Linked DNA regions of Homo sapiens: region 2 is linked to region 1. Evidence: fine-mapped expression QTL. A gene starts in region 1. The other region holds a variant in brackets. All regions are shown on one strand. Distances are from middle to middle.

What was found. PIP is the estimated chance that this variant, and not a neighbour inherited with it, causes the effect.
Region 2: its variant is fine-mapped to the expression of CLIP1 in whole blood (TOPMed, PIP above 0.99).

The regions. Positions count from the first base shown.
Region 1 is chr12:122,415,767-122,428,133 of GRCh38, reverse strand. CLIP1 (CAP-Gly domain containing linker protein 1) reads left to right here and starts at 5,465. Exons shown (of 26, transcript NM_001247997.2): 1 at 5,465-5,613. RefSeq lists enhancers at 4,190-4,289, 11,779-11,898, 11,939-11,998 and silencers at 5,399-5,748, 5,769-6,168.
Region 2 is chr12:122,451,912-122,464,278 of GRCh38, reverse strand. No RefSeq gene overlaps it. Among named protein-coding and RNA genes, the nearest start is that of CLIP1, 35 kb to the right of the region's middle. RefSeq lists enhancers at 6,089-6,138, 6,159-6,218, 6,249-6,298. The variant T/A (reference allele first, on the strand shown) is at 7,173.

The DNA of each region.
Region 1 (12,367 bases):
CACTGCACTCCAGCCTGAGCGACAGAGACTCATTCTCAAAAAAAAAAAAAAATTCCCCACTCTCTGGAAATTCACGTTCTTGTAGGGATGGAAGGAAACAGATAATAAAACAAAACAAACCTGTTGTACTGCCGAAACCTGTCACAGAATCAATGCTAAAGAGCTGGGGAGAAAAAAACCACCAACACCCATGATTTTACGGAGAATAATCTCTACTCATTTTGGTTGAGGATCTTAATTCCTTCTTCTTCTTCTTTTGTTCTTTTTTTAAAGAAATTGGGGCTGGGTGCAGTGGCTGACACCTGTAATCCCAGCACTTTGGGAGGCCAAGGTGGATGGATCACTTGAGGTCAGGAGATCAGCCTGGCCAACATGGCAAAACACTGTCTCTATTGAAAATAGAGACAGTATCTCTACTGAAAATACAAAAATTAGCTGGGCGTGGTGGCGCGTGACTGTAGTCCCAGTTACTCAGGAGGCTGAGGCAGGAGAATCACTTGAACCTGGGAGCCGCAGGTTGCAGTGAGCTGAAATTGCGCCATCGCACTCCAGCCTGGTGACAGCGCGACTCCATCTCAAAAAAAAAAAAATGAGCTGGGTGTGGTGGCTCACACCTGGGATCCCAACATTTTGGGAGGCCAAGGCGGAAAGATCCTTTGAGCCAAGGAGAGATCAGTCTTGGCAACATAGTGAGACCTCATCTCCATGTTTAAAAACAACAACAACAACAACAACAAATAAATGAAAGTAATGTTTTTTTGTTTGTTTGAGATGGGGCTTTGCTCTGTCACCCAGCCTGGATGGAGTGCAGTGGCTGGAACACGGCTCACTGCAGCCTCAACTTCTTGGGCTCAAGCCATCCTCCCACCTCTACCTCCTGAGTAGCTAGGACTACAGGTGCACACCACCACACCCAGCTTGCTTATTTATTTATTTATTTATTTATTTATTTATTTATTTATTGAGATGGAGTCTCGCTCTATTGCCCAGGCTGGAGTGCAGCGGCGCAAGCTCAATGCAACCTCCGCCTTCTAGGTTCAACTGATTCTCCTCCCTCAGCCTCCTGAGTAGCTGGAACCACAGGTGCATGCCACCATAGCTGGCTAATTTTTGTATTTTTAGTAGAGACTGGGTTTCGCCATGTTGGCCAGGCTGGTCTCAAACTCCTGAGCTCAGGCAATCCACCTGCCTCGGCCTCCCAAAGTGCTGGGATTATAGGTGTGAGTCACTGTGCCCGGCCAATTTTTTATATTTTTTTTTTGGTAGAGATGGGGCCTTGCTATGTTGCCCAGGTGGGTCTCCAACTCCTCAGCTCAAGCAGTCCTCCCACCTTGGCCTCCCATATTGCTGGGATTATAGGTGTGAGCCACTGCTCCTGGCCTTGCACATGGTTTTAAAAAATAAAATACATTCAGGTTTATAATTAAAAGCAGTCTGGGCATGGTGGCTCATGCCAGTAATCCCAGCACTTTGGGAGGCCAAGATGGGAGGATTGCTTGAGCCCAGGATTTTGAGACCTGGGCAACATAGACAGACTCTGGCTCTACTAAAAATTAAAAAAAATTAGCTGGGCATGGTGGCACGTGCCTGTAGTCTGAACCAGTCTGGAGGCTGAGGTAGGAGGATCACTCGAGCCCAGGAGCTCCAGGTTGTAGTGAGCTATGATTGCACCACTGCACTCTAGTCTGGGCAACAGAGCAAGACCCTGTCTCAAAACAAAACAAAACAAAACAAAACAACAACAACAAACAAAAACAAAAAAACAAAAGAACAAAAGAAAAGAAAAGCAACAGTTCTCAGTTCTTCTACCTCACTCCTACCTAGTCTTAACCCTGTTCCCCAGAGACTATTAATTTTTTGCTTTTAGTTCTTCTGGTGTTAACTTCCATCTCTCTAAAAATATTGTTGTGGGCCAGGCACGGTGGCTCACGCCTGTAATCCCAGCACTTTGGGAGGCTGAGGGGGACAGGTTGCCTGAGCCCAGGAGTTTGAGACCAGCCTGGGCAACATGGCAAAACTCCATCTCTACTAAAAATACAAACAATTAGCTGGGCATGGCTGTGCATGCCTGTAGTCCCAGCTACTTAGGAGGCTGAGGTGGGAGGATCATCTGATCCCGGGAAGTAGAGGCTGCAGGGAGTCATGATTGCAGCACTGCGCTCCAGCCTGGGTGACAGGAATGAGACCTCATCTCAAGAAAACAAAAACAAAAATACATAAAAATATACTTGTGTTATTTATCAACTGTAGGCATTATCTATTGACTTTCTGTTATGACTAAGGCACGACTACCTCTCCTCTCCACACAATCCTGCCACTATTTTTAATTATTCCTATTGGTTACGTTAATGATATCATTAAACCTTAATTTTTTGGGGAAAAAAAAACAGAAAACAAAACCCTAGGTATTTACCTACCTCCCCGCTTTGTAAAATGAAGACTTGAGAGCTCTTATTTTGCATTCTACTTCTGCAACATCCCTTCCACCTCCCAATGTCTCATCAATTGAGCTGTTCTCATATTTACAGAAGACATGCATTTAAGAAAGCACTGTGGCAGTCGGGCGCGGTGGCTCATGCCTGTAATCCTAGCACTTTGGGAGGCCGAGGTGGGCGGATCACGAGGTCAGGAGATTGAGACCATCCTGGATAACACAGAGAAACCCCCTCTCTACCCAAAATACAAAAAATTAGCTGGGTATGGTGGTACGTGCCTGTAGTCCCAGCTACTTGGAAGGCTGAGGCAGGAGAATAGCTTGGCCCTGCAAGGCGGAGGTTGAAGTGAGCCGAGATGGTGCCACTGCACTCCAGACTGGGCGACAGAGCGAGACTCAGTCTTAAAAAAAAAAAAAAAAAAAAAGCACAGTGGCTAGATCTAAAAACAGAATGTAAATATTGAAGGAGGAACTTTGAGTCCTAACAGTGGCCACCTGGGGTCTGAGCCCTGTCAATGCCCTGGTAGTAGGGCTGAGACCAGGCCTTGCTCACACAATTGAAGGAGGCAGTGAAGGTAAACAATATTGCGATATGCTAATTTTTTTTTTTTTTTTTTTTGGAGATAGAGTCTCCCTCTGTCGCCCAGGCTGCAGTGCGGTGGTGCTATCTTGGCTTATTGCAACCTCCGCCTCCTGGGTTCAAGCAATTCTTCTGCCTCAGCCTCTCTAGTAGCTGGGATTACAGGCATGCGCCACCATGCCCGGCTAATTTTTGTATTTTTAGTAGATACGGGGTTTCACTATATTGGCCAGGCTGGTCTCGAGCTCCTGACCTCGTGATCAGCCCGCTGTGCCCGGCTGATATATTTTTTAAAAAATAAAAATTAATGGCCGGGCACGGTGGCTCACGTCTGTAATCCCAGCACTTTGGGAGCCCAAAGCAGGCGGATCACGAGGTCAGGAGATCGAGACCATCCTGGCTAACACGGTGAAACCCTGTCTGTACTAAAAAAATACAAAAAATTAGCCGGGCGTGGTGGCGGGCACCTGTAGTCCCAGCTACTCGGGAGGCTGAGGCAGGAGAATGGCGTGAACCCGGGAGGCAGAGCTTGCGGTGAGCCGAGATCGCACCACTGCACTCCAGCCTGGGCGACAGAGTGAGACTCCATCTCAAAAAAAAAAAAAAAAAAAAAAATTAACGCCAAGACTCCATGATGAACAAAATGATATAATTATAAATAAATAAGCAAATGATGAACATGACAATGACATAGAATAACCCATGAGAACAAGCAAATATACACACACACACACACACACATATATATACATATATATATACATGTGTATATATATATATATTTTTTGAGACAGAGTCTCCCTCCGGCACCCAGGCTGGAGTGTAGTGGCTTGAACTCTGGTCACAGCAACCTCCGCCTCCCGGGTTCAAACAATTCTCGTGTCTCAGCCTCCCGAGTAGCTGGGACTACAGGCATGCACCACCATGCCCAGTTAATTTTTGTATTTTTTGTTAGAGACGGGGTTTCACCATGTTGGCCAAGCTGGTCTTGAACTCCTGTCTGCAGGTGATCCACCCACCTGGGTCTCTCAAAGTGCTAGAATTACAGGCGTGAGCCACCACACCCAGCCCCAAAACAATATTTTTAATAAAGACAGGCTCAGCCTACTGAGTAGAGAAGAAAAGACAAGCCCATAAGTGTTCCTAGCTGAACTCCCCCATTAGAAGTGGTCTGTGCCTCATCCTATGACATCTATGATTCCACAGCTTGCTGATTACAGCTGAAGACTGTTTAGATTAGGGGGTGAGGCGCGCCTTTCAGATTAGGAATATGGATATGGGATTTCAGGAGTACCACCACCACCTGACCTTGCAGCCTGTAAATTAGGGCGATGTTGAATTAGGTAACAGCATTTCGAGGGATTTCAGACATGAATGGAGAGGAGGGGCCAGGAGACAAATTTACATAGTTCAGAACTTCGTGCATTACCAGAGCAGTTCCCTCTTCCTGCTGGTCCAGGCAGCACGGTGCTTTGAATAAAGGTCAGCTAGAGGGGTCACCCGCCGATTATTCTCTTCTACTGGCAAGGAGGAGGAAGCCCCTGCCCCCTTATCCACCACAAAATCCTGGGCTTCCCCGACAGCTGCAAATTCCTCCCTGGAGATGTAAGGCTTCTGGGGTTGCCATGGTCCATGGGAGTGAAATGCTGGCCGCCCTCTGCTACCCCAGCCCCGAGCAGGCTGTTGCAGCCTTCCCTCCTGTCCCTTTCAAAAGCTTTTAAAGGAAATCCCAGGGGGGAAGGAGGATGGGACACTAACCAGGGCTTCCGTCCAAGCAGCCAGGGCGAATAAAAGGGGCTTTTCTCAAACGAACGGAGCAAACCCTGGGATCGTTTCAAAGGATTTTTAACCCGCGGTCGTTCCCGGAGGGAAGTGGGGAGCAGATACAGTTCTTCCCAAGCTTAACCTGCTCTACAGTTCCTTTCAGCATTTTCTCCAGGGACGCCTCATCCAGGGTCTTTCCCTGGAGGGAGGCGAGGGCAGAGATGATCCTTCCCAATCCCCAACTTAACCTGCTTCGGAAGCGCCTTGCAGCCTGTTTCAAAGGATTTCTCACCCTTGTCTGGCGGGAAGGGGAGGGCAAACAAATGAATCAGCCCCAAAGAGCGGGCTGAGGTCGAGGCTGAATGGGGCTCTTGGGTGTGACTTGCAAATTCTGGGAACACTTTGCAGAAATGACGAGAAGCCCCTCGGAGCAGGCCTGTGGGTTTTCCCTCGCACCTTGCTCCCCAAGCCGGGGCTCGGGAGGGTTCGAGGGCGGAGCGGCGGGCGCGCCGGGGCCAGGGTCCTCCCGGGGCCGCGGTGGGCGCAGACAAAGAGGCGGCGGGGCGGCGCGGGGCCGGGCGCGGGCCGCAGGGCCGGTGCGGACTCGAGGGGCCGGGCCGGCCGGGCCGGCCGGGCGGGCGCGGCGGCGGAGCGCTGGGAGGAGCCGCGCGGCGTCTTCTCCTGGCAGCGCGCGCCCGCCCGGCCCCGCGGCGGCGGCGGCGCGTCACGCTCTCCCCCGCCCCGAGCCGACGAGCCGGGAGGCGGGAGGCGGCGGCCGCGGCGGCTGCTGCTGCTGCAGTGGGACAGGTGGCGGCGACCGGCGGCGTCCGAGGAGGTGAGCAGGGGGCGGCGCGGGCCCTCTCCCTTTCCCGGCACCCCCTGCTCCCCTGCCGGCTTCCCGGCCTGCGGGGCCCGCCCAGGGTCGGGTCGGGGGTCGAAGCCCGGCGTCCGGGAGCGGGGCCGAGCCTCGCGCGCCGGAGCCGTCCGGGAGGGGACCGCGGGAGTCTCGGGTGGCCGGCGCCGGAGGCCGGGGGTCCCTGGGGGGCTCCTCCGGAGCTGGAAAAGTGGCGGCCCTGTCAGCGCCGAGCCGGGCCTTCGCTTCCTCCGCCCGCCTCAAGATGGAGCTTGGACTCCTTGCCCCTGCGCCGCCCCAGGCGCCGCTCTCTCCCTGGCGCCCCGCTCCCTCTCCTGGGCCCCGGGGCGGATGTGGGATCGGCCGGACCCCGGGAGGCCGAAGCCGGGCGGGACCTGTTGCCCCGGGCGCCGCGCCTGTCACCTGAGCATTCCTCAGGCCCCGGGTGCCCGGCGCCCGCGATCCGGCATGGAGGGCACCCTGGCCCGGCCTCCCCCGCTGCCCCGGCTTTTGTTTTCCTCTCAAGTGGGGCTGTGATTCTCGGAGACCGGGGAAGGCTGGAGGTGGCCAGATCGCTCTCGGGTTTCCGAAATCACACCGCTGCCCGGTAATCCGAACCTTCTACCGCGGCAGGGGATTGGCGCGGAAGGCAGATGACACTTGTTCAGAGGTTATTTTACAAGCAGAACCTAGCGATTGCCCGAATTGGAAGGTCCTGCCTTTCAAAAATCGGGTTTTGATTCGGGGGTGAATCCTGAATCCGGCTGTTTCTCCACTTCATGTGGCTTTTCCATCTGGCAGGAGCCGAGCGCCACCCCCTCCTCCCTGCACAGCCCCACCTCTTTGGTATGAAGAAATTACACGTTGTCCGTCATCGGTTTAGATACCTGTTTTTAGCAAAACTTGGGCGCCAGTGAACTGTTTTTTAAAACAAAGGGTGGAGAAGATTCTGTAATTGTGTGTGTGTGATTCAGCAGCCTGGCCTTCTTCCTCTTTTAGGACAGTGGCCCCTAGCAGCTCTATAAGTATTAAGTGCTGTGGCCACTGCTGTCATTAGGGTTATGATTCTGGCTGTTCTTATTATTTGATTTGTGTCACTACTGTTAGCGATGGTATCCACGAATCAGGAGAGTATCCCAGAGTCAGGAATGTGTTTGTTTGACTTTTAGATTTAATGATAACCTTTAGCAAGAATCCCCAGGCATGTCGCTTCTCAGACTTGGGGCCTTTTTTTCTCTGTAAATTATAACAATGAACATTTATTGAAGGCATCTTGTGGCCAGGCTCTGGGCTAGCTTTTTATGTGTTTTATTTCATTTAATCAACCCTAACCCAGTGAGCGTGCTGTCGTCATGTGCATTCGGCAGGAGGGTCATAGAAAGGTCAAGTAACTTGACCAGGGTTATACAGCTAAGCACCTGAAGTCAGAATACCTTTTACCAGCATGTGAACTCAGGTATTCTGACTTCAGGTGCTTAGTTATTCGATTAGTATAGGGAATCTGTGGCAAAAAGCAAGGCTAGTCTGTCTGTCTGTCTATCCATCCATCAATCAATCAATCAATCAATGAGAGGGAGCCTCAATCTGTCCCCCCGGCCAGAGTGCAGTGGCGTGATCTCAGCTCACTGCAATCTCGGCCTCCCAGGTTTAAGCGATTCTCGTGCCTCAGCCTCCTGAGTACTGGAATTACAGGTGCCCGCCACCACGCCCGGCTAATTTTTGTATCTGTGGTAGAGATGGGGTTTCACCACGTTGCCCAGGCTGATTTCGAACTCCTGGGCTCAAGTCATCCACCTGCTTTGGGCTCCCAAAGTGCTGGGATTACAGGTGTGAACTACCGCACCTGGCCCCAAGGCTGGTCTACATTAAAGCAAAGTTGAAGTGGGTAATTGCTTGGCCAAAGGCTTGTGCCCGATTTTTAAGGTTCAGAGAAAGCAGTTAAGTACATCTTCCCACTAGACCTAGTTCAAAGGGGAAAACTGAAACCGGGTGGGACCCTGGGTAGGTATTTTGCCTGAAGATCAAGATTTTGCCCTTCCCTATTTTTTCAATCATTGCTTCAGCTCCAGCTTGCACTTCAGCATGACATAAGCTAATCTGGTTTCTGTCCTATTGAGGAGTTTAGAATCTGATATCCTTATCTCTTTTTTTTTTTTTGACATGGAATTTCACTCTTGTTGCCTAGGCTGGAGTGCAATGGAGTGATCTCGGCTCACTGCAACCTCTGCCTACTGGGTTCAAGCGATTCTCCTGCCTCAGCTTCCCGAGTAGCTGGGATTTTAGGTGCCTGCCACCATGCCTGGCTAATTTTTTGTATTTTTTTAGTAGAGATGGAGTTTCATCACGTTGGCCAGCCAGGCTGATCACACCTGACCTCAGGTGATCCGCCTGCCTCAGCCTCCCAAAGTGCTGGGATTATAGGTGTGAGCCACCACGCCTGGCCTGATGTCCTTATCTTAAAAAAAATTTTTTTTACCTAGTGGCTAAAATTCACTCTGTCACATCCCATGTGACTCATAAGGGACATGAACTAACTCAGTCATGTTTGATTCTTGCTTTTTTTTTTTTTTTTTTTTGAGACAGAGTCTCGCATCTCGCTCTGTTGCCCAGGCTGGAGTGCAGTGGTGCAACCTCCGCTTCCCAGGCTCAAGCAATTCTCCTGCCTCAGCCTCCCGAGTAGCTGGGATTACAGGCACACACCACGGCACCGGGCTAGTTTTTGTATTTTTAGTAGAGACAGGGTTTCACGATGTTGGCCAGGCTGGTCTCGAACTCCTGACCTCAAGTGATCCTCTCACCTCGGCCTCCCAAAGTGCTGGGATTACAGGCATGAGCCACTGTGCCCGGCCGATTCTTGCTTTTTAAGTGCTGTCTGCTGGGATTCGAAAGCCAGTGGATGGTGTATAAGAGATGAGTTGATTCTCTTATGGCCCATACAAAGGTAGGCACCTTTGAACCTTTCACATACTGGGCACCTGGTTCTTCGTTATTACTTACAGGTAGATTTCTGGTCTTCCTTGAATAGATATATCAAGGCCAGGGTCTTCACATTTCGGGACCCTTGCAGAATTCTGTGGAGTTCCATGTACTCAGTAAACGTTTCTTATTTTTTTTTAATTAATTTTTTTTTTTTTGAGACAGAGTCTCACTCTGTTGCCCAGGCTAGAGTGTAGTGGTGCAATTTTGGTTCACTGCAACCTTTGCCTCCTGGTTCAAGTGATTCTCCCACCTCAGCCTCCCAAGTAGCTGGGACAACAGGAATCTGTCACATGCCTGGCTAATGTTTGTATTTTTACTAGAGCTGGGGTTTCACCATGTTGGCCAGGCTGGTCTCCAACTCTTGAATTCAAGTGATCCACCTGCTTTGGCCTCCCAAAGTGTTGGGATTACAGGTGTGAGCCACCGTGCCCATCTGTTTCTTGGTTAATTGAAAATATAAGGTTCATAAATGTCAGATTGATTTTATAGAAGTCAAACCAAAGGAAAAAACAGAAGGTAGTATAGTAAAGTCACAGGGAGAGGGTTTAATATTTGTTAACATTACAAGAGAATTTTGTCTATATATTAACTAAATCGAGACTTTCACTTTGTATGACTTTTCACTATCCAAATAATCAGCTTCTTTCTTCTCTGAGAGGTCAAATGTGTTTTTCTCTGATATGAAGAGTAGACAATGTTTATTAGTCATAGCAAGCCTGTAGTTCTCCTTTGCAGTATTTTTATTTTATTTTATTTTTTTAGACACAGGGTCTCGCTCTGTCACGCAGGCTGGAGTGCAGTGGCACAATCGTAGTTCACTACAGCCTTGAACTCCCTCCTGGGCTCAAGCAGTCCTCCCACTTCAGCCTCCTGAGTAGCTAGGACTACAGGTGCATGCTATCATGCCTGGCTAATTAAAAAAATTTTTTTTCCTGTAGAGATGAGGTCTTGCTATGTTTCCCAAGCTGGTCTTGAACTCCTAGGCTCAAACAATCCTCCTAACTTGGCCTCCCAAAGTGCTGGGATTACAGGCATGAGCCACCGTGCCCAGCCCCACTATCCAAATAATCAATTTCTTTCCTTTTCTTGTAGAAATGAGATGGAAGGTCAAGTGTGTTTTTCTTTGATATGAAGAGTAGACAGTGTTGTTTATTATGGCAAATCTATAGTTCTCTTTTGCAGTATTTTTGAACTGTGACAGCATCCCTAAAGGCAGCTTGATGAGCTATGGTATACCTATCTGTGGGCTGTAATTAGATCTCATTTGGTATTCAGGCAACAAATATTTATTGAGCATGTACCGTGTGCCAGGTGCTGTTCTAGATGATGGTGATACAACAGTGAATAAAAGACAGAAATCCCTGTTATTCTCTTGGAACTTCCCTTCAAGTAGAGAAGGCAGACAATAAACAAAAAGTAAATTTATTGTATGTTAGGTGACACATGGCAAAGAAAAAACAATCAGAGAAGGGAAAGTATAAAGTACTAGGGGTAAGAGTTAGAAGAATGGAAATTTTACATAGGGCAGCAAGAGGAGACCTAGCTGGGAATGTGACTTTCGAGTAGAGACAGAAAGGAAGTGAAGGAATGTAGAGCCCAGAGAGAAAAACATCCTAGGGAGAAGGAAGGAGGAGGCAGGACATTGAAGACTTTCTAGGCTGTAGTCCTTAAAATATGTATTTGTTGAAATATTTAAAAATACAGAATAATTTGGCCGGGCGCGGTAGCTCACACCTGTAATCCCAGCACCTTGGGAGGCCGAGGTGGGTGGATCACGAGGTCAGGAGATTGAGACCATCCTGGCTAACGCAGTGAAACCCCGTCTCTACTAAAAATACAAAAAATTAGCCAGGCTTGGTGGCGGGTGCCTGTAGTCCCAGCTACTCAGGAGGCTGAGGCAGGAGAATGGTGTGAACCCAGGAGGTGGAGCTTGCAGTGAGCGGAGATCTCGCCACTGCACTCCAGCCTGGGCGACAGAGCGAGACTCCGTTTCAAAAAAAAAAAAAAAAAAAAGGCAGAATAATTTTATGCCTTTTTAAAAAATTGCTTTTGTTTTTTAGAGACAGAGTCTCACTCGGTCACCAGGCTGGAGTGCAGTGGCACAATTATAACTCACTATAGCCTTGGACTCCTGGACTCAAGCCGTCCTCCTGCCTCAGCCTCCCAAGTAGCTAGGAGGTGTGTACCACCACACACAGTAAGTTTTGTTTTGTTTTGTTTTGTTTTTAAGACAAAATCTTGTTTTTGTCCCCCAGGCTGGAGTGCAATGGAGCAATCCCAGCTCACTGCAACCTCCGTCTCCCAGGTTCAAGCGATTCTCCTGCCTCAGCCTCCAAGTAGCTGGGATTACAGGCACATGCCACCACACCTGGCTAATTTTTGTATTTTTAGTAGAGACGGGGTTTCACCATGTTGGCCAGGCTGATCTAACTCCTGACCCTCAGGTGATCTGCCTGCCTCAGCCTTCCAGAGTGCTGGGATTACAGGCATGAGCCACTGCGCCTGGCCCAGCAAATTTTTTTTTGGAACTCTTGGCCTCAAGAGATCCTCCCACCCAGACTGTTGGGATTACCGGTGTGATCCACCACACCTGGGCACCATGTTATTGTTATAATTATTTTTTGAGATGGAGTGTCGCTCTTGTTGCCCAGGCTGGAGTGCAATGGCGTGATCTCTGCTTACTGCAACCTCTGCCTCCTGGGTTCAAGCAATTCTTCTGCCTCAGCCTCCCAAGTAGCTGGGATTACAGGCATACACCACCACACCCGGCTAGTTTTATATTTTTAGTAGAGATGGGGTTTCACTGCGTTTGTCAGGCTGCTCTTGAACTCCTGACCTCAGGTGATCTACCCACTGCAGCTTCCCAAAGTGCTGGGATTACAGGTGTGAGCCACTGCTCTCGGCCACCATGTTATTTTTAATTAATTTTTTGAGAAGGGGTCTTGTTATATCGCCCAAGCTAGACTCAAATTCCTGAGCTTAAGTGATCCTCTCATCTCAACCTCCCCAGTAGCTGGGACTGTAGGCTTGTACTACTGTGCTGACTATGTCATGTTATTAATGATTTTGATGAAGATAAAGATATGGGGGAAAATGAGGCTCAAAGAATTTCCCTAATTTGCCTAAAAGTCCACACAGCTAGTGAATAGAAATTGAGCCCAGTTTAGGTTATTTTAAGTAATGTACAGAATACCTTGGCAATGGCACAAAGGCCAGCCCAGTACTTGATGTTCAGATGTGCTATTGAGTGTATACTTTCCTATTTCTATCCATCTGTTCAGGACTGTTCAGGACTTTTTTTTTCTATCACCCAGGCTGGAGAGCAGTGGCGCTATCTTGGCTCACTGCAACCTCTGCCTCCCGGGTTCAAGCGATTCTCTGCCTCAGCCTCCTGAGTAGCTGGGATTACAGGCGCCTGCCACCACGCCCAGATAGTTTTTGTGTTTTTAGTAGAGACAGGGTTTCACCATCTTGGCCAGGCTGGTCTTGAACTCCTGACCTCATGATGCACCCACCTCAGCCTCCCACAGTGCTGGGATTACAGGCATGAGCCACCGTGCCAGGCCCAGGATCTTGCTTAACTTTGGGAGGCCTGATAACTTGATATTGGTGTATATAGCTTTTTCCTGGAATTGCGCACCTTGTAACAAAGCCGTCCTTTTTAGTCTTAAAGTTTTATAGTTCAAAATCTATGGGTTTTTTTTTGAGATGGAGTCTCCCTCTGTCACTCAAGCTGGAGTGCAGTGGCACGATCTTA
Region 2 (12,367 bases), 36 kb before region 1:
AACATTTGGAGGAATACTGAACACCTACTATATGAGGGTAGTTGAAATCTAATAGGGTTCATGACTTTAGAGAGTCAAGGATTAGGACAGGCATAGCAGGCATGTGGTAGAAACAGAATGTTTGCCTACAGTCATAATTGAAGGAAATGTCAAATTTCCCTGAATTCTATCCAGAAGGTCCGTGGACCCCCAGTTAAGAACCTTGCAGCAGGGCTGGATGTGGTGGCTCACGCCTGTAATCCCAATGCTTTGGGAGGCCAAGACAAGAGGATAGGTTGAGGCCAGTAGTTTGAGACCAGTCTTGGCAACATAGCAAGGTTCGAGACCTGTCTCTACAAAAAATAAACAAAATTAGCTTGGTGTGGTGGTACACACCCGTGGTCCCAACTGCTCGGAAGGCTGAGATAGGAGGACGGTCGAGGCTGCAGTGGACTGTGATCGTGACATTGAACTTCAGCCTGGGTCAGAGACAGACCCTGTCTCCTAAGAAAAAAAAATTTTGTTGAGCAAGTGACTAGATTCAAAGGTTAAAATAGCCTACTTGTATATTACCTTTTAGAGATTGGCTGAGGTCTAAGTAGATTGGTGCTCAGGGTAAGAGTTTGAACTCAGTGATCACTAAGGTTCCTTCCAACTCTTTTTTTTTTTAGAGAAAGGGTGTTGCTCTGTTGCCCAGGCTTCAGTGCAGTGATGTGATCATAGCTCACTATAGCCTCGAACACCTGGGCTCTCGCTATCCTCCTGCCCGGCCTCCCAAGGAGCTGGGGCTAAAGGCACATGCTGCCATGCATGGCTAATTTTTTCATTTTTATTTTATTTATTTATTTATTTTATTATTTTTATTTTTTGAGACGGAGTCTTGCTCTGTCGCCCAGGCTGGAGTGCAGTGGTGCAATCTCAGCTCACTGCAAGCTCCGCCTCCCGTGTTCGCGTCATTCTCCTGCCTCAGCCTCCGGAGTAGCTGGGACTACAGGTGCCCGCCACCACGCCCGGCTAATTTTTTGTAGTTTTAGTAGAGACAGGGTTTCACCGTGTTAGCCAGGATGGTCTGGATCTCCTGACCTTGTGATCCTCCCACCTCGACCTCCCAAAATGCTGGGATTACAGGCGTGAGCCACTGCGCCCAGCCTCATTTTTATTTTTGTAGACATGGGGTCTCAGTTTGTTGCCCAGGCTGCTCTTGAACTCCTGGGCTCAAGCAATCCTTCTGCCTCAGCCTCCCAAAGTGCTGGCATTACAGGCCAGAGCCACTGCACCCAGCCATCCTTCCAACTCCTTGGTCTGTGTTTTGCCCTTACTTGAGCTTCCTTCATCATAACTTGCAAACTTGCATTTCATTTTTGATGAACTGAAGCAATTTTCTTTCTTTTTTTTTTTTTTTTTTTTTTTGAGATGGAGTCTCGCTCTGTCACCCAGGCTGGAGTGCAGTGGCGTGATCTCGGCTCACTGCAAGCTCTGCCTCCCAGGTTCACGCCATTCTCCTGCCTCAGCCTCCCGAGTAGCTGGGACTACAGGCACCTGCCACCATGCCCAGCTAATTTTTTGTGTTTTTAATAGAGATGCGGTTTCACCATGTTAGTCAGGATGGTCTCAATCTCCTGACCTCGTGATCTGCCCGCCTCGGCCTCCCAAAGTGCTGGGATTACAGGCGTGAGCCACCGCACCCGGCCTGAACTGAAGCAATTTTCTAAGCTCCTTCTTTATTCTGATGCTCAGAGTAAAATTGCCAGTATATTTAATGTGCTTTGTGTAAATGACTCACTCCTGAGTGTTTTTAGGATGTTTAGATAAAGATAGGCCTTGTTGTGCTCTTTAGAAGAAATTGCGACCAAGTGTGTTTTACAAAGGAATAGGTAAATAACTGCAGGCACAAAACATAAATGATCCACTGAATATTCATCAGTTATGGTAGGAATGGGTGGTATTCATTTCCCAGTTTGTTGAGTATTTTTATCAAGAAGGAGTATTGAGTTTTGTCAAATACATTTTCCGTATTGAGATTATCATGCAGTTTTTGTCCATTCTATTGATTCAATGTATTACATTAATTGATTTTCAGATGTTGAACCAACCTTGTATTCTATCACATTTGATCATATTGTTTAATCCTTTTTATATATTGGTGGATACAGTTTGCTAGTATTTTGGTGAGGATTTTGTATCTATGTTTATTAAAATATTGGTCAGTAGCTTTCTCCTTTTTCAACCATTTCTTGTATTGATTTTTAATTAAAAAATAATTTTTTTTTGAGACAGGGTCTCTCTCTGTTGCTCAGGCTGGAGTGCAGTGGCAAAATCTTGGCTCAATGCAACCTCCACCTCCCAGGCTCAAGAGATCCTCCCACTTCAGACTCCTGAGTAGCTGGGACAACAGGTGTACACCACCATGCCAGGCTAATTTTTTTATTTTTTGTAAAGATGGAGTTTGACCATGTTGTCAGGCTAATTTTTTAAATTTTAATTTTTTTGAACCAAAATGTCTTTTAATTGAATACTGAATACATTCTGTTAGGACATAAGAGTGACTGACAATTTTTTTTTTTTTTTTGACACGGAGTTTTGCTCTTGTTGCCCAGGCTGGAGTGCAGTCATGCGATCTTGGCTCACTGCAACCTCTGCCTCTCAGGTTCAAGCAATTCTTGTGCCTCAGCCTCCCTAGTAGCTGGGATTACAGGCACCTGCCACCATGCCCGGCTAATTTTTGTATTTTTAGTAGCACAGGGTTTCACCATGTTGGCCAGGCTGGTCTCGAAGTCCTGACCTCAGATGATCACCCGCCTTAGCCTCCCAAAGTGCTGGGATTACAGACACAAGCTCGATTTTACAGCCCAGTTTTTTTTTTTAAGACAGGATCTCCCTTTGCTGCCCAGGCTGGAGCACAGTGACATAAACATCGCTCACTGCAGCCTCTACCTCCTGGGCTCAAGTGATCCTCCCGTCTCAGCCTCCCAAGTATCTGAGACCACAGGTAAGCACCACCATGCCCAGCTAATTTTTAAATTTTTTATAGAGACAGAGTCTTGCCTTGCTGCCTGGGTGAGTCTCAAACTCCTGGGCTCAAGAGATCCTCCCACTTCAGTCTCCCAAAGTGCTAGGATTGCAGGCATGAGCCACTGCGCCTTTATAAGACTGATGTCTTTATAAGAAGAGGGAAATCTGGCACAGAGAGATGGAGGCAGAAAGCGATGTGGAGATGGAGGCAGAGACTGGAGTGATGCATCTATGAGCCAAGGAATGCCAGAAGCTGTGAGAGAGGCATGGAACAGCCCGTCCCTCAGAGTGCCCAGAAGGAGCCAACCTGGGAATTCTAGCCTTGAAAGCTGAGAGAATATGGCTGGGCTCAGTGGCTCACCCCTGTAATCCCAGGACTTTAGGAGGCCAAGGTTGCAGTGAGCTGAGGTCGTGCCATTGCACTCCAGCCTGGGCAACAGAGTGAGACTCTGTCTCAAAAAAACAAAACAAAACTGAGAACTGAGAGAATATGTTTCTACATTTCTGCTGATTAAGCCACCCAGTTTGAGGGACTTTGTGGAAGGCCCCAGTTAGCTGATTCTCATCCTTACAGACAGGCAGAATCTTTTCCAAAGAATTGCATCCATGTTCATCTTTTCCTGTTTTCTGTGATCTCTGAGGAGTCCGAGACTTCCAGAATGAGATGAGCATTTCATAGTCAACATTGGCCTTATCTCGCCAGACACTGAGTACAGTCAACCCTACAGTAAACTCTACTATACTATATTACTATATAGGGCTATGCTATAGCAATAGTTCTCAACACAGAGTTTACAGACAAATTGTCTCTCAGAAATCCACAAGTTCTCCACATAATTATTTTTTTTTGAGACGGGGGGTCTCTCTGTTGTCCAGGCTAGAGAGCAGTGGTGAACTCTTGGCTGACTGCAGCCTCGACCTCCCAGGCCCAAGTGATCCTCCCAACTCAGCCTCTGAGTAGCTGGGATCACGGGTGCACGCCACCACACCCGGCTAATTTTTTTTTTTTTTTTTTCAGTAAAGACAGGATTTTGCCACGTTGCCCAGGCTGGTCTGGAATTCCTGGCCTCAAGTGATTGCCCACCTTGGCCTCCCTAAGTGCTGGGATTACAAGCGTGAGCTGCTGTGCCTGGCCCTGATAAATTTTTATATTTTCTGCTTTCATTTCAATGATAATGAAAAATCAGACATTAAGATCTTTTTTTTAATTTATTTTTTTGAGACAGCGTCTCGCTCTGTTTCCCAGGCTAGAGTGTTGTGACGCAATCTCGGCTCACTGCGACCTCTGCCTCCCAGGTTCAAGGGATTCTCCTACCTCAGCCTCCCAAGTAGCTGGGGTTACAGGCGTGCACCACCACACCCAGCTAATTTTTGTATTTGTAGTAGAGACAGGATTTTGCCATGTTGGCCAGGCTGGTCTCGAACTCCTGACCTCAGGTGATCCACCCACCTCAGCCTCCCAAAGTTACTGGGATTACAGGCGTGTGCCACTGCACCCGGCCTCAGACATCATGATCTTATTCCTGGTCATGATGCACTACCACACAACCACGTGCTGCTGTGTAATTTCAGTGCCCACATACTGTTTATTATCATGCTACTGCAAAGTTAAATCCTAAAGTCACTGCTATTTTGAATTTTTATCTTTTTGAGATAGGTCTTGCTATATTGCCCAGGCTGGCCTCAAATTCCAGGGCTCAAGGGATACCCCCCCTCCAACATCAGTGTCCTGGGTAGCTGGGACTACTGGCTGGCATGTGCCACCATGCCTGACTCTATTTCTATTTCTATTTATTTATTTAAGAGACAGGGTCATGCTCTGCTGCCCAGGCTGGAGCGCAGTGACGCAATCACAGCTCACTACACTCTCAAACTCCTGGGCTCAAGCTATCTTCCCTCCTGAGTAGCTGGACTACAGGTGCATGGCACCATGCCTGGCTAATTAAAAAAATTTTTTTTGTAGAAACAAGGTCTTGCTGTGTGGCCCAGGCTGGCCTCAAACTCCTGGGCTCAAGCAATCTGTCTGCCTTGGTCTCCCAAAGTACTGGGATTACAGGAGTGAGCCATTGCACCTAGCCCTTAAAGGAATTTTTTTCTTTTTCTTTTTTTTTTTTTTTTTTGAGACAGAGTCTTGCTCTCTTGCCCAGGATGGAGTGCAATGGCACGATCTCGACTCACTGCAGCCTCTGCCTCCTGGGCTCAAGTGATTCTCCTGCCCCAGCCTCTGGAGTAGCTGGAATTACAGGTGCCCTCCAAGACACCCGGCTAATTTTTTTATTTTTAGTAGAGTTGGGGTTTTACCATGTTGGCCAGGCTGGTCTCAACTCCTGACCTCAGGTGATCCACCTTCCTGGGCCTTCCAGCCACCATGCTAGGCCTAAAGCAACTTCTAAATGAAGTGCTTCTCAAGCAGAAACCAAGGACAAATTCTCAGCAGCCAGAGAGTTGCCATGTGTGATAAATACTAGTGTGATGAATCAGAACGATCAATACATGAAAGAGCTTCGGGCCAGGCATGGAGGTTCATGCGTGTGATCCTAGCACTTTGGGAGGCCGTGGCAGGAGGACAGCTTGAGCCCAGGAGTTCAAGATCAGCCTGGGCAGCATAGCGAAACCCTACAAAAAATCAAAGATTAGCTGGGCATGGTGGCACACACATGAGCCCGGGAGGTCAAGGCTGCAGTGAGCCAAGATCACACTATTATACTCCAGCCTGGGCAACAGAGCAAGACCCTGTCTCAAAAAAAAAAAAAATTAAATAAATAAATAAATAAATAAATAAATAAATAAATAAAATTAGCCATGTGTGGTGTTGCACACCTGTAGTCCCATATACTCAGGAGACTGAAGTTGGAGGATTGCTTGAGCCCAAGAGGTTGAGGCTGCAGTGAGCCCTGATTGTGCCATATCATTCCAGCCTGAGTGACACAGCGAGACCCTGTCGCACACACACACATACACATGCACGCACACGTACACATGCACGCACACACGGCCGGGCACAGTGACGCATGCCTGTGATCCCAGCACACTGGGAGGCTAAGGCAGGTGGATCACTTGAGGTCAGGAGTTTGAGACCAGGCTGGCCAATATGGTGAAACCCTGTCTCTACTTAAAAAAAAAAAAAATTAGCTGGGTATGGTGGTGCATGCGTGTAGTCCCGGCTACTCAGGAGGCTGAGGCAAAAGGATCACTTGAGCCCAGGAAGTGGAAGTTGTAGTGAGCCGAGATCACGCCACTGCACTCCACCCTGGGTGATGGGAGTGAAACACTGTCTCAAAAAACAAACAAACAAAAACCAAAAGTAGGTGGTTTTTATTAGTTTCCTAGGTCTGCTATAACAAACTACCAAAAACCTGGGTGGATTTGAAGAAGAGAAATGTATTGTCTCACAGTTGTGGGGCTGAAGTCTGAGGTGAAGGTGTCAGCAGGGCCCTGGTCCCTCTGAAGACTCCAGGGGAGAAACTGTTCCTTGCTCCCCTCCCAGCTTCTGGTGTCCCCAGGCATTCATTAGATTGCATATGCACCCCGTCCTCCCTGTTCCCATGGATTCTCCCTTTATGGCATCTGTCCTGTGTGTCCACACGTGTCTGTGCCCAAACTTCCTTTTCAGAAGGTTCCCATCATATTGGAGTCAGGCCTACCCCCACTGACCTCCTCAATTACTTCTGTAAAGACCCTGTTTCCTAAGATCCCATTCCAAGGCGCTGGGAGGCAGGACTTTTTTATTTTATTTTATTTTTTGAGATGAAGTCTTGCTCTGTTGCTGGAGTGCAGAGGTGCGATCGCGGCTCACTGCAGCCTCTGCCTCCCAGGTTCAAGGGATTTTCCTGCCTCAGCTTCCGGAGTATTTGGGATTACAGGTGCTGGGTACTATGGCAGGCTAATTTTTGTTATTGTTAGTAGAGACAGGGTTTCACCATTTGGCCAGGCTGGTCTTGAACTCCTGACCTCAGATGATCCGCCCACCTCAGCCTCCCAAAGTGCTGGGATTACAGGCGTGAGCCACCGCACCTGGCCCAGGGGCAGGACTTTAACATATCTCTTTGGAGGGCACACAAGCCAACCCATAACAGGGGTCCAAAAGTGGCACAGGGTCGCTTGCTGGGGTCAACATGATGGTTCTAGGACCAGTCATTACACCTGTACTTCAGTGTATAGGGGAAAAAAAACTGTATTTT[T/A]AAATTTATTTTATTTTTTGAGTCAGGATCTCCCTAGGTCACCCAGGCACGAGTGCAGTGACCTGATCACAGCTCACTGCAGCGTCAACCTCCCACCTCAGGTTCAGGTGATCCTCCCACCTCAACCTCCCAAGTAGCTGGGACTACAGGTGTGCACCACCATGCCTGGCTAATTTTTGTATTTTTAGTAGAGATAGGGTTTTACCATGTTGCACAGGCTGGTCTCGAACTCCTGACCTCAAGTAATCTGCCCGCCTTGGCCTCCCAAAGTGCTGGGATTACAGGTGTGAGCCACCACGCCTGGTCGTATTTTTTGAGACATGGTCTTGCTGTGTCACCCAGGCTGGAGTGCAGTGGTGTGATCGTAGCTCACTGCAGCCTTGACGTCCTGGGCTCAGGTGATCTTCCCACCTCAGTCTCCTGAGGAGCTGGGACCACAGGCGCACACCACCACACCTGGCTTTTTTTTTATTTTTATTTTTGTGGAGACAGGGTGTCACTATATTACCACTGATCTTGAACTCCTGGGCTCAAGCAATCTTCCCAAAGGATCCTCCCTCAGCCTCCCAAAGTGCTGGAATTACAGGCGTGAGCCACTGCTCTCAGCCTAGCAAATGGTTTTCTCTATAACACTCAACACTTCCAGCACCAGATGTGTGGGGTTTTTCCCACACCAACCCCCTCTTCAACTCTCCAGGCATCAACTGGGGGTTCCACAATTCAACTATGACACAAATGACGTGAGCTTAGAGCAGACCCCACAGGCTTAGTATCACAAGACTTCCCCCCATTTCGGTTGCCAATCTCAAGTAGTGGGTCCCTAGTTTACTCAGACTTCTGTCTGACTTGACTACAAATCGAGGCTCCCATGACCCCTTTTCTAGGTCCAATAATTTGCTATGATGGCTTACAAAACTCAAGGAAACATTTTCAGTTACTAGTTTATTATAGAGAATGTGATAGAGGATATACCTGGCCAGCCAGATGAACAGGTACATAGGGCAAGGTGCAGAAGCGTCTGAATACAGGAGCTTCTGTCCCCGGGGAGCAGGGGTGCGCCACACCCCCAGCATGTGGGCGTTTACTAGCCTGCAAGTTCAGAGATTTTTATGGAGATTTTCTTTCTTTCTTTCTTTCTTTCTTGAGACGGAGTCTCGCTCTTTCGCCCAGGCTGGAGTGCAGTGGCACGATCTCGGCTCACTGCAAGCTCTGTCTCCCAGGTTCACACCATTCTCCTGCCTCAGCCTCCCAAGAAGCTGGGACTACAGGCGCCCGCCACCACGCCTGGCTAATTTTTTGTATTTTTTTTTAAGTAGAGACGGGGTTTATCCATGTTAGCCAGGATGGTCTCGATCTCCTGACCTCGTGATCCGCCCGCCTCGGCCTCCCAAAGTTCTGGGATTACAGGCGTGAGCCACTGCGCCCGGCCTTTCCTTCTTTCTTTTTCTTTTCTTTTTTCTTTCTTTTTTTTTTTTTTTTTGAGACGGAGTCTCGCTGTGTCACCCAGGCTGGAGTGCAGTCTCGGCTCACTGCGAGCTCCGCCTTCTGGGTTCACGCCATTCTCCTGCCTCAGCCTCCTGGGAGTAGCTGGGACTACAGGCGCCCACCACCACACCAGGCTAATTTCTTTGTATTTTTAGTAGAGATGGGGTTTCACCATGTTAGCCAGGATGGTCTTGATCTCCTGACCCGGTGATCCGCCTGCCTTGGCCTCCCAAAGTGCTGGGATTACAGGCGTGAGCCACTGCGCCCAGCCTTTTTTTTTTTTTTTTTTTTTTTTTTTTTGAGACAGCATCTTGCTCTGTCACTACTCAGGCTGGAGTGCAGAGGCATGATCACGACTCACTGCAGCCTCAACTTCCAGAGGCTTAAGTGATCCTCCTGCCTCAGCCTCCCAAAGTGCTAGGTTTACAGACTGAGTCCCCACACTCTGCCTTTATGGAGACTTCTTCATGCAGGCGTGATCCATTATTAACTTAATCTCCAGCCCTTTCCCCTCACCCAGAAGACGGAGGGTGAGGCTGAAAGTTTCAGGATGCTAATCATGGTTTGGTCATTCTGGTGACCAGCCCCCATCCTGAAGCTATCCAAGAGCCCACCAAGTTTGGCTTCATTAGAACAATAGGTCTTCCTGTCACCCAGAAAATTCCAAAGGATTAGGCGCTCGTATTAGGAGACAGGGTCAAAGACCAAATGGTAGAACGAAAGATGCTCCTAACATTTTTTGCTTTAGAAACTGCAAAGGTTTTAGGAGCTCTGGCCAGAAGCCAGGGGCAACAAAGATCAAAATGTATATTTCTATTTTTTTTTTTTTTTGACACAGAGTCTCGCTCTGTCACCCAGGCTGGAGGGCAGTGGTGCGATCTTGGCTCACTGCAGCCTCCGCCTCGCGGGTTCAAGTGATTCTCCTTCTCAGCTTCCCGAGTAGCTGGAATTACAGGCATGTGCCACCATGCCCAGCTAACTTTTGTATTTTTAGTAGAGACGGCGTTTCACTGTGTTGGCCAGGCTGCTCTCAAACTCCTGGCCGAAAGTGATCTGCCCACTTTGGCCTTCTAAAGTGCTGGGATTACAGGCGTGAGCCACCATGCCCGGCCTATTTCTTATTATGTCACAATATCACATCCTATCAGCAGGAGGGAGAAAAGAAAGATAAATGTTTGCCCTCTCCCTTTAAGAAAACTGCCTGGACTGGACACTGTAGCTCACCCCTGTAATCGTAACTACTCGAAGGCTGAGGCCGGAGGATCGCTTGAGCCCAGGAGTTCAAGTTTGCAGTGAACTGTAATCATGCCACTATACTCTAGCCTGGGCAACAGAGCAAGCCTCCATCTCTTACACACACACACACACACACACACACACACACACACACTTCCAAGAGGTTGCATGGGCTACTTCAGCTTGGCCAGAACTTATTTTCATGGCCATCCCTAATAACACAGGAAGTTAGGAAATGTCTTCATTCTGGATGTCACATGGCAGGAAGAATCAGATACAGGAAGAGGGTAGAATGGCTTTGAGGGGGGCGGGACTTCTGGTAGTCTCTGCTTCAGTCTTTGAAAATGGAAGCACAGTAGTGAATGTTATAGTTGACTGTGCAATACTCACTTTACCCTGATCATGGTATATTCAGGGTGGACAGACCTGGGCCCATCTGGGCCCACCTGGGCCAAGGAGATGCATGCCAGAGGGTGCGTGTGTGCGTGCACGTGTGTGTGTGCATGCACACGCACACTTAGAAAACCATAGGAAAGGCCAGGAGCAGTGGCTCACACCTGTAATCCCAGCACTTTGGGAGGCCGAGGCAGGCGGATCACCTGAGTTCAGGAGTTCGAGACCAGCCCGGCCTAAAGGGCGAAACCCCGTCTCTACTAAACATACAAAATTAGCCAGGTGTGGTGGCGCAGGCCTGTAGTCCCAGCTACTAGGGAGGCTGAAGTAGGAGAATCGCCTGAACCTGGGAGGCAGAGGTGGCAGTGAGCCAAGATTGCACCACTGCACTCCAGCCTGGGGAGACAGAGTGAGACTCTGTCTCAAAAAAAAAAAAAAAAAAAAAAAGCAAAAGCAAAAGCAAAAGCAAAGCAAACCACAAGAAAGCATGAATAGGAAATTGTCAGGCCTCTGAGCCCAAACTAAGCCATCATATCTCCTGTGCTGCACGAATACATCCAGATGGCCTGAAGCAACTGAAGATCCACAAAAGAAGTGAAAATAGCCTTAACTGATGACATTCCACCACTGTGATTTGTTTCTGCCCCACCCTAACTGATCAATGTACTTTATAATCTCCCCCACCCTTAAGAAGGTTCTTTGTAATTCTCCCCACCCTTGAGAATGTACTTTGTGAGATCCACCCCCTGCCTGCAAAACATTGCTCCTAACTCCACCGCCTATCCCAAAACCTAAAGGAACTAGTGGTAATCACGCCACCCTTTGCTGACTCTCTTTTCGGACTCAGCCCGCCTGCACCCAGGTGAAATAAACAGCCTTGCTGCACACACAAACCCTGTTTGGTGGTCTCCTCACACAACGCATGAGACAGAAATGTATCATATATCATATCCATTGCTCTGGCAACCATCTTACCTTAGGATGGTTGAATGAAGGATGAAGCCACCTCCGCAAATGGCAGAGAAAGAGAAGAAAAGATTTTGGGTGCTTGAGAAATTTAGCGGCTTGAGCCACTACATCAACCAGCCCTGAAGCTGAACCGTGTTGCAAACGTCCTGTTTTGTGAGCTAATGAGTCTCCTTATTGTCTCCGCTAGTCTGAGTTAGACCAGCTGCTGAAATCGTGATAACTGATGTAAACTCTAATAAAATGTAAGGTAATTTTTGACCAGCAGAGCATAAACCTCAACATCTGACTGGTCCCAGCAGATTTAGGCACCCTTATCTCCTTTTAGCTTTAGGAATTTCATTTGGGATTCAAATGGCTTTATCTGACAGGAACATATGCATAGCTGTTTCCAGGTAGGCTCTGATGGCCTGTATTTGATGGAGTAAGATTGGTTTTACATTTAAGAAAGGTTAAAGTAGAGGGGAACAGGCATTCTCATACATTATTGGTGGGGATATAAATTGGCTCACTCTTTTTTGGGAGGGTAATTTTTTTAAAAATGTAAATGTACATATTTTAGATTCAGTGGTTCTAATCTAAGCATTAATCCTACAACTATGTTTGTAAAAGCACACTGTATGCGCTTCAGATTCAAGCTTCTTGGTAAGACAAAAAACATTTTTAAGAAGAAAAGAAATACGAGTATACTATATATGCACCCAAGGCTGTTTATTGTGGCAATGTGTGTAGTAGCAAGTACTGAAAATAACCTAAATGTCTATTGGTAGGAATCTGTTGAAATCATAGCACACTATGATCTTACAACGCAATGGTTTAAAAAAATGAGGAGGCTGGGTACAGTGGCTCGCGCCTGTAATCCCAGCACTTTGGGAATCTGAGGCAGCAGGATCGCTTGAGCCTAGGAGTTCAAGACCAGCCTGAACGACATGGCAAGAACTCATCTCTAGGGAAAAAAAAAATTAAATAATTTAAAATATGGGGCCAGGCGTGGTGGCTCATGTCTATAATCTCAGCACTTTGGGAGGCCGAGGCAGGTGGATCACCTGAGGTTGGGAGTTCGAGACCAGCCTGGCCAACATAGAGAAACCCCGTCTCTACTAAAAATACAAAAT